Regions from separate parts of the Homo sapiens genome. Here region 1 is linked to region 2. The links come from fine-mapping of genetic effects on gene expression. A gene starts in region 2. The other region holds a variant in brackets. All regions are shown on one strand. Distances are from middle to middle.

Evidence for each region. PIP is the estimated chance that this variant, and not a neighbour inherited with it, causes the effect. A credible set is the group of variants that fine-mapping cannot tell apart.
Region 1: its variant is the best candidate, but not a certain one, in a credible set for the expression of AKNAD1 in esophagus muscle (GTEx, PIP 0.89).

Annotation. Positions count from the first base shown.
Region 1 is chr1:109,078,992-109,084,369 of GRCh38, forward strand. It overlaps TMEM167B-DT (TMEM167B divergent transcript), which reads right to left. Exons shown (of 2, transcript XR_947688.3): 1 at 4,224-5,378. Among named protein-coding and RNA genes, the nearest start is that of TMEM167B-DT, 3.1 kb to the right of the region's middle. The variant G/A (reference allele first, on the strand shown) is at 2,869.
Region 2 is chr1:108,854,667-108,860,044 of GRCh38, forward strand. AKNAD1 (AKNA domain containing 1) reads right to left here and starts at 2,428. Exons shown (of 16, transcript NM_152763.5): 1 at 2,263-2,428. It overlaps SPATA42 (spermatogenesis associated 42), which reads left to right and starts at 2,551. Exons shown (of 3, transcript NR_034168.1): 1 at 2,551-2,835; 2 at 3,492-3,601; 3 at 3,719-3,858.

The DNA of each region.
Region 1 (5,378 bases), 220 kb after region 2:
GCGGAGGTTGCAGTGAGCTGAGATGGTGCCACTGCACTCCAGCCTGGCCGACAAAGCAAGACTCCATCTCAGAAAAAAAAAAAAAAAGTGCAGCCCAAGTTCAAGGAGAGGGGATTACATAAGGGCAAGAATATTGCTGGGGAGATCACTGGGGGCTTTCTGAGAGGTCACCTACCACAGTAAATTATATTATTTTTGAATTTCACTACACAATAATGGAGACACTGTATTTGTTATTAATATTTAAAGGAGATTGTTGAGCCTGATAGGTTTGAGAACTGCTTTTAGGTAGTGATCCAGTGTCCAGGAGGTCAGGCATAAAACATTCATAGTGTCTGTTATCAGTGGAGTAGATAGGTAAAATATGCTGGATGCACAGCACGGAGTACAATGCAGCAATCAGAAGCAATAGATTTAGCAACATGGACAGAACTTGAAAACAGTGCTAAGTTAAAAAAGAAACAATAAAATCTATAATATAATACCATTTATAGAAATTAAAAATACTACTTATTTTAAAGGAAAATATAAAAAAGCGTAAACATTAAACACACTAGAAAGTTGCAGTGTAGGAGAAATGGGAATAAGGATAAAAGGAATAAATTGATAAATAAAAAGTGAAGGACTTTGGAAGGGCCAATTGTAATACTATGCCATGAGCTGCGGCATGTGAATAATTCAATCCTGTGAACCTGAGATCCAAAACACAAAGTGGGGGAAAAAAAATTGCAGTGTCAGTCCAGGCGTGGTGGCTCACGCCTATAATCCCTGCACTTTGGGAGGCCGAGGCGGGCGGATCACGAGGTCAGGAGATTGAGACCATCCTGGCTAACACAGTGAAACCCTGTCTCTACTAAAAAAAATACAAAAAATTAGCCGGGCGTGGTGTCGGGCGCCTGTAGTTCCACCTACTTGGGAGGCTGAGGCAGGAGAATGGCATGAACCCGGGAGGCGGAGCTTGCAGTGAGCCGAGATCGCGCCGCTGTACTCCAGCCTGGGCAACAGAGCAAGCCTCCGTCTCAAAAAAAAAAAAAATTGCAGTGTGATAAGCAGAGCAGAAGGAAAACACAGAGTAAAAAGTCATGGTGTGCTTCTACAAGATGTTCTCTGTGGGTTGCCAGAGCCAAGTTTTTTGGGTGGGGATGCAGGAAACGAGGCTGGAATTTGCGTGTGAAAGGCCTTAAATGTTCTCTTCAGAGACTGAACTTCAAACTACAGAGTTCTTGGGAAGTCTTTAAACAGATGTGTCACATGACTTTACAGTTTTTAAAAAGATCACTTTTGCGGGGAAACTAGGATGAGAGATGATTATAATCTGAATTAAGGCAAAGAGGAAGAAGGAACTGATTTAACACAAACTTTACGAGACAATTTACAGGACTTTGTGACAATGAATGTGAAAGCTATTGACAGAAGAATGGAATGCTATTAATATAAATAGGAAAGAAAAAGGGGAAAGAAGTTGGAAGTGGAAGGAAATGAGTTTAGTCTGTGTTTGAGAGTCTGGAGATGTACTAAAACTGATGGAAATCCAGGCCAGGAATTACAGGCCCGGAAATCCACAGAAAAATTAGTACTAGAAGCCGGGTGTGGTGGCTCACGCATGTAATCCTAGCACTTTGGGAGGCCAAGGTGGGTGGACTCCCTGAGCTCAGGAGTTCGAGACCAGCCTGGGCAACATGGTGAAACCCTGTCTCTACTAAAACACACACACACAAAAAGAAAGAAAGAAAGAAAGAAAAATTAGTACTAGAGAAAATGACATGGGAGATACCATCACAAAGTGATAGTCTAGAGATTGCACGGAAACAAAGGCTGAGAGAATAGAGGCAAAGGGCACAGCCTTAGAAACAGTACATCAAGGAGACAGAGTGACAGAAGGAATAGTCAAAGAGGTAGGAAAAGATAAAAGTAGGATAAGGAGGAGGAGAGGGAGGAGAAAAACTGAAAACCCAAAAAGAAAAAGTTTCAAAAAGAAGCAGGTTTGGGCTGATCACTTGAGGTCAGGAGTTTCAGACCAGGCTGGCCAACATGATGAAAACCTGTCTCTACTAAAAATACAAAAAATAAAAATAAAATAAAAAAATTAGCCAGATGTGGTGGCGAGCACCTGTAGTCCCAGTTGCTCGGGAGGCTAAGGAAGAAGAACAGCTAGAACCGAGGAGGCGGAGGTTGCAGTGAGCCAAGATCATGCCACTGCACTCCAGCCTGGGTAACAGAGCAAGACTCTGTCTCAAAACAAAACAAAACAAAACCAACAAAGAAAAGCAGGTGGCATGGAGTGCTCAGTGCCAGAGATTACAAGATTGAAGATTTCTCTTTTTTTTTTTTTTTTTTTTGAGACAGAGTCTCGCTGTGTCGCCCAGGCTGGAGTGCAGTGGCTTGATCTCGGCTCACTGCAAGCTCCGCCTCCCGGGTTCATGCCATTCTCCTGCCTCAGGCTCCCGAATGGCTGGGACTACAGGCGCCTGCCACCGCGCCCGGCTAATTTTTTTTTGTATTTTTAGTAGAGATGGTGTTTCACCGTGTTAGCCAGGATGGTCTCGATCTCCTGACCTCGTGATCCGCCCACCTCGGCCTCCCAAAGTGCTGGGATTACAGGCTTGAGCCACCGCGCCCGGCCACAAGATTGAAGATTTAAGAAAAGGCCTTGGATTTGACAATTAGGAGGTATGGGAATGATCTGGAGAACAAAGTTTGAGGGTGTTGGTGAAGATGGAAGCCAGATTATAACAGGTTAAAGAACGAGTACATAGTTGGATACTGAAGGTAGAAAAGCAAAGAGGAAAGTAGCCTTAAGAGGGCAGTAAAGGCCGGGAGCGGTGGCTCACTCCTGTAATCCCAGCACTTTGGGAGGCCGAGGTGGGC[G/A]GATCAAGCGGTCAAGAGATTGAGACCATCCTGGCTAACATGGTGAAACCCCGTCTCTACTAAAAATACAAAAATTAGCTGGGCGTGGTGGCACGCACCTGTAGTCCCAGCTACTTGGGAAGCTGAGGCAGGAGAATCGCTTGAACCCGGGAGGCAGAGGTTGCAGTGAGCCGAGATCATGCCACCGCACTCCAGCCTGGCAACAAGAGCGAGATTCCGTCTCAAAAAAAAAAAGAAAGAAAAAAGAGGGCATTAGGACCTAGGAATGTGGACTTTGAATAAATGATTACTGAATGAATGAAGCTGTGAACTTATCCCAGCCATTTAGCTAACTGCTCAGAAAATCCTGTTTTTCATTACAGCAAAAAAATGGAATGAGCTTTTAATGAAAAAGGTAATGACCAAAGAGATTTGTTCACAAAAGAATGGAATCAGCAGAGAGGTAATTGATAGAAGGAAGAAATGGAGCTCTATGAGAGTAATTTGGAAGGAATGGCAGGGGTGGGATTATCAGAAATGAGGAAAGCAGGAGCTGGATGGTGGGTCTGAGAGGTGTTAGTGATGGGATATTGGTAGGCAGGTAGCACCACTCAGACTCCAAATCAAGGCAGAAGCTTTGCAGTCCCACCCCTACCTCCACTTTCACCCCTCCATCCCAGGGTGTAGACGTCTACAGTGCTTCTCCCTAATTTGGGCTTAGTGAGGTTATGTCACTTTTAAAATGGCTTTCAGAATTTCTGCAATAATCTTAATGGAGTCTTAACCACACTTCCTATGGTCCATGGTTAAATATGCAGACTCTGAGATCAGATAGGTTGAGTCTGAAATCCTAGGTGTACTATTTATCAGCTATGTTACCTTGAGACAACTTACTTGACCTGCTGGTACACCCATTTCCTCATCTATGACAGGGGGATAATAATAGTTACTAACCATATAAGGTTATTATGAGGTTATTAGATGTGTTAATAACCATAAAGTGTTTTGGGTAGTACCTGGCATGTAGTGAATATTCCATAAGTATCATTGTTTTTATTTTTTTTTATTTTTTGAGATGGAGTTTCACTCTTGTTGCCCAGGCTGGAGTGCAATGGTGCAATCTTGGTTAACGGCAACCTCTGCCTCCCGGGTTCAAGTGATTCTCCTGCCTCAGCCTCCCGAGTAGCTGGGATTACAGGCATGGGCCACCACGCCTGGCTAATTTTGTATTTTAGTAGAGATGGGGTTTCTCCATGTTGGTCAGACTGGTCTTGAACTCCCGACCTCAGGTGATCCGCCCGCCTTGGCCTCCCAAAGTGCTGGGAGTACAGGTATGGGCCACCGTGCCCGGCAGTTGTTTTTATTTAAGGGCCTACCTTTCACCATTATCTTCTGCTGTTCTCCTTCATGAGCTCTGCATTCCAGTTCCACAAGGCCACATTCAACTATTCATGCAATAAATATTCATGAAGCACTTGCAAAATGTTTAGCACTAGCTATGGGATTGTGGATAAAATGACAAAACAAATGAACATTACAATATAGCAGGGGGACATAAGTTAAACAGATATAGTATGCTTTGGAAACATGATCAGGGAAGTAGACTGAAGGTCCGAGAAGTCTACCTTGAGCAAGTGAGGTCTGAGTTGGGACTTGAGGGATGAATGTGAGTTAGCCATTGAAGGAGGAAGGGAGGCTTTACTGTGCCCCAATCTTACCTTACACTTTCCCTCTCCAGGGCTTTGATGGCTCAATTCCCTCCCCACTAGAATGCTCTTTATTTCTGCTTATTGAAATGCTATAAGCTTTTCAGGCCCAGCTAAAATGTCTGCTCCTCAATAAAGCCTTCCCTGAACGCTCCAGCTGAAGGCAGTTTCCCATTTCTACGCACCCCCCCGCCACCCTGGCACTTAGTTTTCATTTTCCTTGGACACTTCTCACTTTCTGCTGTATTTTTTGGTTATTTATAAACACAGCTTATCTTTTTCTACTAAATCTTAAACTTTTTAAGAACAGAGTCTATTTCTCATTCATCTTTGAGTTCCCAAAGGCTAGCACATTCCTTAGATTTAGAAGTCCTGGAACAAATGTTTGTAGCATAAATTAATGCCTATTTGACATCCCTTTTCAAATATGTTGTAATTCAAATGAAGCTATTGTTGCAAGCTGTGCCTTTGAGGCTCAACTTACTCTTTGGTTAAACCAGAATGCCACAGTCATGGTCCCCATGACTGATTAGTGTTCACCACAATAACTGCAACAACCCTAACAAACAGGCCACTGTTCTTGACTGACAGGCGTTTGGCAACAACTACCAATTCTCCAGTGAACACTGAAATGAATTGAGGAAGAACTGTCTGAATTGAGAGTCCCTAGGCCAGTAGGCTCTATTTATTCTTTGCAGTTGGGCTGCAAGAGCTGGTCACCCAGGCTTTGGCCTGATGTGAGACATGACTGCACTGGGTGGCAGTGAGGCTATGAGACTTTCCAGGGTGACAGAAACATTAATGATTGTAACAAAATAATCAAAG
Region 2 (5,378 bases):
TATTTTAAATCATTTAAAGAGGGTAACATTTAGTATAAAGTGAGGCATGTCTTCATGAGAAGAATTACAGGCTATTCTAATCCAAGTTGAAGAACAAGGGAAAAGGCTTCCCAAGAAAGTGAAAGGCACAGTGGGAAAGCAGAAGTGGAGAGGCATGGATCTGAATACTCTGGCTTCTCTGCTTTCTAGCTGTGTGTCATCTGGCAAGTTATTTAACTCTTGTGAGTCTCGGTTGCCTTTTCTGAGAAATAGGACTAGCAATACCTGAAATAAGGCACTAAAGTACTCGGCATAGGGCTTGGCACAGAGTAAGAATTCCATACATTGTTGTTGAAAAATGAAAAAACAAAACCAGTCTCAGTATTGGAATACTGAAGAATGCCCAGGTCCAGAGGTGAGGCACTCCTTATCCGTGGGGATATTTAAAGGATAAAGGAAGGAATTGCATATGTAAAACATAATCTCGTCCAAGCAAGGTGGCTCATGCCTGTAATCCCAGCACTTTGGGCGGCCGAGGCAGGTGGATCACGAGGTCAAGAGATGGAGGCCATCCTGGCCAACATGGTGAAACCCCGTCTCTACTAAAAATACAAAAAATTAGCTGGGCGTGGTGGCGCACACCTGTAGTCCCAGCTAGTCAGGAGGCTGAGGCAGGAGAATCACTTGAACCCGGGAGGCAGAGGTTGCAGTGAGCCAAGATCGCGCCACTGCACTCCAGCCTGGCGATAGAGTGAAACTCCGTCTCAAAACAAAAAAGACATAATCTCTACAAGAACTTTAAGACAATTTTAAAACTCAATCTGTAAATAAATATATTTGAAGGTAAAAAAAAAAATCAGGCTGGATGAGGTGGCTCATGCCTGTAATCCCAGCACTTTGGGAGGCTGAGGCAGGTGGATCACTTGAGCTCAGTAGTTCAAGACCAGCCTGGCCAATGTGGCAAAACCCATTTCTACTAAAAATACAAAAATTAGTTGGGCATGGTGGTGCATCCCTATAGTCCCAGCTACTTGGGAGGCTGAGGCAGGAGAATCACTTGAACCCGGGAGGCAGAGGTTGCAGTGAGCCGAGATCATGCCGCTGTACTCCAGCCTGAGCAACAGCAAGACTCTGTCTCAAAAAAATAAAAAATAATAAATAAATAAATAAATCACTAAGCAAGTTTAAACAAAATATTGTCTAATTTTTTAGAACAAAAAAAAACAGAGTATCTTTTTTTTTTTTTTTTTAGACAAGGTCTCACTCTATCACCCAGGCTGGAGTGTAGTGACAACACCATGGCTCAACTGATCTTCCTCCCTTAGCCTCCTGAGTAGCTGGGACTACAGGCGCACACCACCACACCTGACTAATTTTTAATTTTTTTTTTAGAGATGGAGTTTCACCATGTTATTCAGGACGGTCTCGAACTCCTGAGCACAAGTAATCCACCTGCCTCAGCCTCCCAAAGTGCTGGGATTACAGACATGAGCCACTGTGCCTGGCCTGAGAGTATGTTTAAATGCCTACAGAGAGAATGGAAGAAGAAGAAAACAAATTCTAGTTTTGCAAGACTTTTAATGACCCAAGTATCAGTCCCAAAGTTATCCTCATGCTTTCTTTACATTTTCAGGAGCTCATTGCCAAACGCCATACCCTTCTTGTATAGAAAGGAAAGATACTTTGTTGGCCAAATTCCCACTTTTAAAATATAATTAATTAAAACTGATAAAATTTGAATTTTGCTCTGGCTCTCAAGAAAAAGAAAAAAAGTCCAGGCACAGTGGCTCATGCCTGTAATCTCAGCACTTTGGGATGCCAAAACAGAAGGATTCCTTGAGGACAGGAGTTTGAGAACAGCTTGGGCAACAAAGCAAGACCCTGTCTCTACAAAGAAAAAAAAAATTAAAAATTAGCCAGCAGTGGTGGTATATGCCTGTAGTCCCAGCAACTTGGGAGGCTGAGATGGAGGATCAGTTGAGCCCAGGAGGTCAAGGCTGCAGTGAGCAGAGATCATGCCACTGCACTCCAGCCTGGGTGACAGAGCAAGACCCTGTCTCTCTCTCTCTCTCTCACACACACATAAACACACACACACAAACACACACACAGACAAAGAAAGAAAGAAAGGAAAAGAAAAGGAGTGAGATACCATTAAGATAAACCAGAAACCTGAGGAACACTCTCATTACATACAGGAAAACAGCTTCTGTTGTTATTATTTTTTGCATGTGTGCATGCAAAATATCAAGAGGATTTTTTCTGGAAAAGGACAATCCATACCCTTAGCAAGGTAATGAGCTTCTTTGAGATAACTGGAGGAACTGGAGCATCTTCCCATGTCAACACTTGGCTCAATCTTGAAATCCAAAGGCATATCCAAAGAGGTTCCACTCAGAATCCAACAGAACCTTTCTGTAGAATCCAAATTGATTTTCTGAAGTCAGGTGACTACATTTGGGGCCACGCCTGCTTATGCAGCTATCTTGACCATTATGTGCTCAGCAATACCTCACAAGTCACTCTGAGATGAACACTTTGAGCAAACAGGGCCAGGACATCACAGTGACCCAGGCTGTGAAAACACTTCAGGCCAGTCCCTGAGTAGGAATGGACAACAAGGTGGTCACCATGCTGACAGCTATTCCCTGTGTGATTTACTTTATTATGAAGTCTAAATTTGATGCTGAAGTGCTAGCCTAAGCTCACTAACCTGCCAACTTAGAGAAGAAGGTAACCATGGCTAGGATGACTGGGAATCTGATGGACTCAATTAAGAATTTCTACAGATGGGAAAACCAAAACTCCTTAGTGGCAAGAGGCCAAAGATGGTCAGCGAATTGTTGTTTCCGGCTGGTAGGTGACATTTCTTCTATTCGCTAAGCCCATTTTGTGATAACACAGTTTTCCATATTGACAGGATTGTTTTCATCACCAAAGGAAAACCGTGGGTCCATGTTCCTGTGACAATCTCTTTGTCTCATTCCCAACACCCTCTGTTCTGTGTTTAAACCTCTACAAACCAGGCAAACTGGGGACTATGTGTAGGACCCAGACATGGAGGAGAAAGCAGGCATTGTTTCTACTTACCTTATCTGCCCCTCCACTAAGGTACCAGTTAGTACAACCACGTAACACTCACAAGTCCTACACTTCTAAGATCAGCCCTACTGACTTTGTCACGGTAAGAGTTGGCTGTTGGAGGCAATGATTCAACAATCTAAATTCTGATTATTCCTTTTTGTATCTGTCATTTAGAATGTGAATAGTGTACATCTAAAAGCTTTAAGTACATTATCCATCAATTTTTACTACACAAAGCAGTATGCTGCTCTGTCTTCAAACAGCACAATGCTACAGTCAACACAAAGGGCAAAACCATGGCAATATGGCAATTGCAATAGAAACTCACCAACATCTTGGAGTCTCTGGATATCACAGGTGAACAAGTTGAAGGGCCTTGCGACACAGACAAGCAACCCTTTAATTCTAAATCATCTTTTTTTCAACAGTTGGAAGTTGACTGCAGTTGAATAACAGAACAAAAACGGAGCTTCAAAATCATGGCGTGCCTGCTTCTTCTGGGTTCTTTTAACTGCAAGCAATCAGCTTTGAAGAGCACGTAGGGAACTTCTGATGTGATACAAACTTTTGTCTTTTTTTTTTTTTTTGTCTTTTAAGAGCATTCAAAAACACTTGGTCTGGCTGTTTCAATTTTCTCTTTCTCTCCTATTCCTAGCTCAAGAATAACATTTACATATGAAAGAAAATAGGAGATGGCTCAGAATAATATGTCCAAGGCCACGCCCAGGCGTCAGGGATTCATGAATTTTGTATACAGTGTATGATGTTTCTAGATTAAAATATTTTCAAAGGTAACATGATATAGGCTCCCTCTGTAATGACTGCATTTGATTATGCTCTGGTAATTCTATCAGCTAACTTTATCTCAGAAATGTGGGGTACCCACAATGCAGTGCCTCAACTGTAACCATATACCATTCAGTGAGGCTGTCTAGCTTCACCCTGTCATTGTGGGGTGGCAGAAGGGAGACACTGTGATGGGCAACAAGTCAATCCAATACTCCTACAAGAGCCAGATGGATGTATTATTTATAGTCAGTCTTAGGGCTGTCGTCCTTTTGGGAGTGCGCATGAATTTGATGACCAGCTGTTACAAATTTGTTATCCTGAAACTATTTTAGAAGTTGGGGGGAAGGGAGGAAAGCCTTTTAAAAGTGCGAGTAAAGCAGTATTTGGAGAAACTTCCTGCCTGTGTTTTACCAGAAAACTTTGCTGGTTTTCCTTGCTCTTTGGTGAGGTTAGCCCTGTCTTTTTATCCAATTTTCCCATTGATGTAGCCTAGTGTGTGCTGTAAACCACGGACCTTTGCTGTGCTTTGGGAACATTTAGAAAACTCTTACCAATTAATTTTCTGAAAGTAATTCCAGTGATAAACTTTAAAACACATTGATTTAAAGAAGTATAATGTCTTTTTTTTTTTTTTTTTTTTTTTTTGAGAGAGAGTCTCACTCTGTCACCAGGCTGGAGTACAGTGGCGCAATCTTGGCTCACTGCAACATCCGCCACCCAGGTTCACGCCATCTCCCACCTCAGCCTCCCGAGTAGCTGGGAGTACAGGCACGTGCCACCAAGCCCAGCTAATTTTTGTATTTTTAGTAGAGGCAGCATTTCACCATGTTGGCCAGGATGGTCTTGATCTCTTGACCTCATAACCCACCTGCCTCGGCCTCCCAAAGTGCTGGGATTACAGGCATGAGCCACCACACCCAGCCAAAGAAGTATAATTTTTAAATTTTATTTATTTATTTATTTTGTAAAGATAGAGTCTTGTTGTGTCCCAGGCTGGAGTACAGTGGCATGATTATGGCTCACCACAGCCTCTACCTCCTGGGTTCAAGCAATCCTCCTGTCTCAGCCTCCCGAGTAGCTGGGACCACAGGCATATACCACCACACCTGGCTAATTTTTTTTTTCTTTTTTTCTTTTTTTTTTTTTTTTGTAGAGACAGGATCATGCTAGGTTGCCCAGGCTCATCTCGAACTCCTGGGTTCAAGCGATCCTCCTCCTCAGCCTCCCAAAGTGATGTGATTACAGGCATGAGCCACCATACCCAGCCTCGAATAAGTATAATTTGTTTTTAATCTTGTCCCTGAAACGTCTCTGCCCTTCCCTAAACTTTCAAACTTAAGTTTTGCAACCTCCTCCTGGAGATAAGAAGGGCCAGAATATTTTAGGAAAACCCTTCCTCCCTTAACCAAAGACTTATGCTTCTCTCCTCCGCCCTCCTCCCCCTGCCTAAAGGAAGAACATTGACTTGTAATTATAATTTTTTAAAATAATGAATACAAGGTTAAATATATTGCACATTGATACCT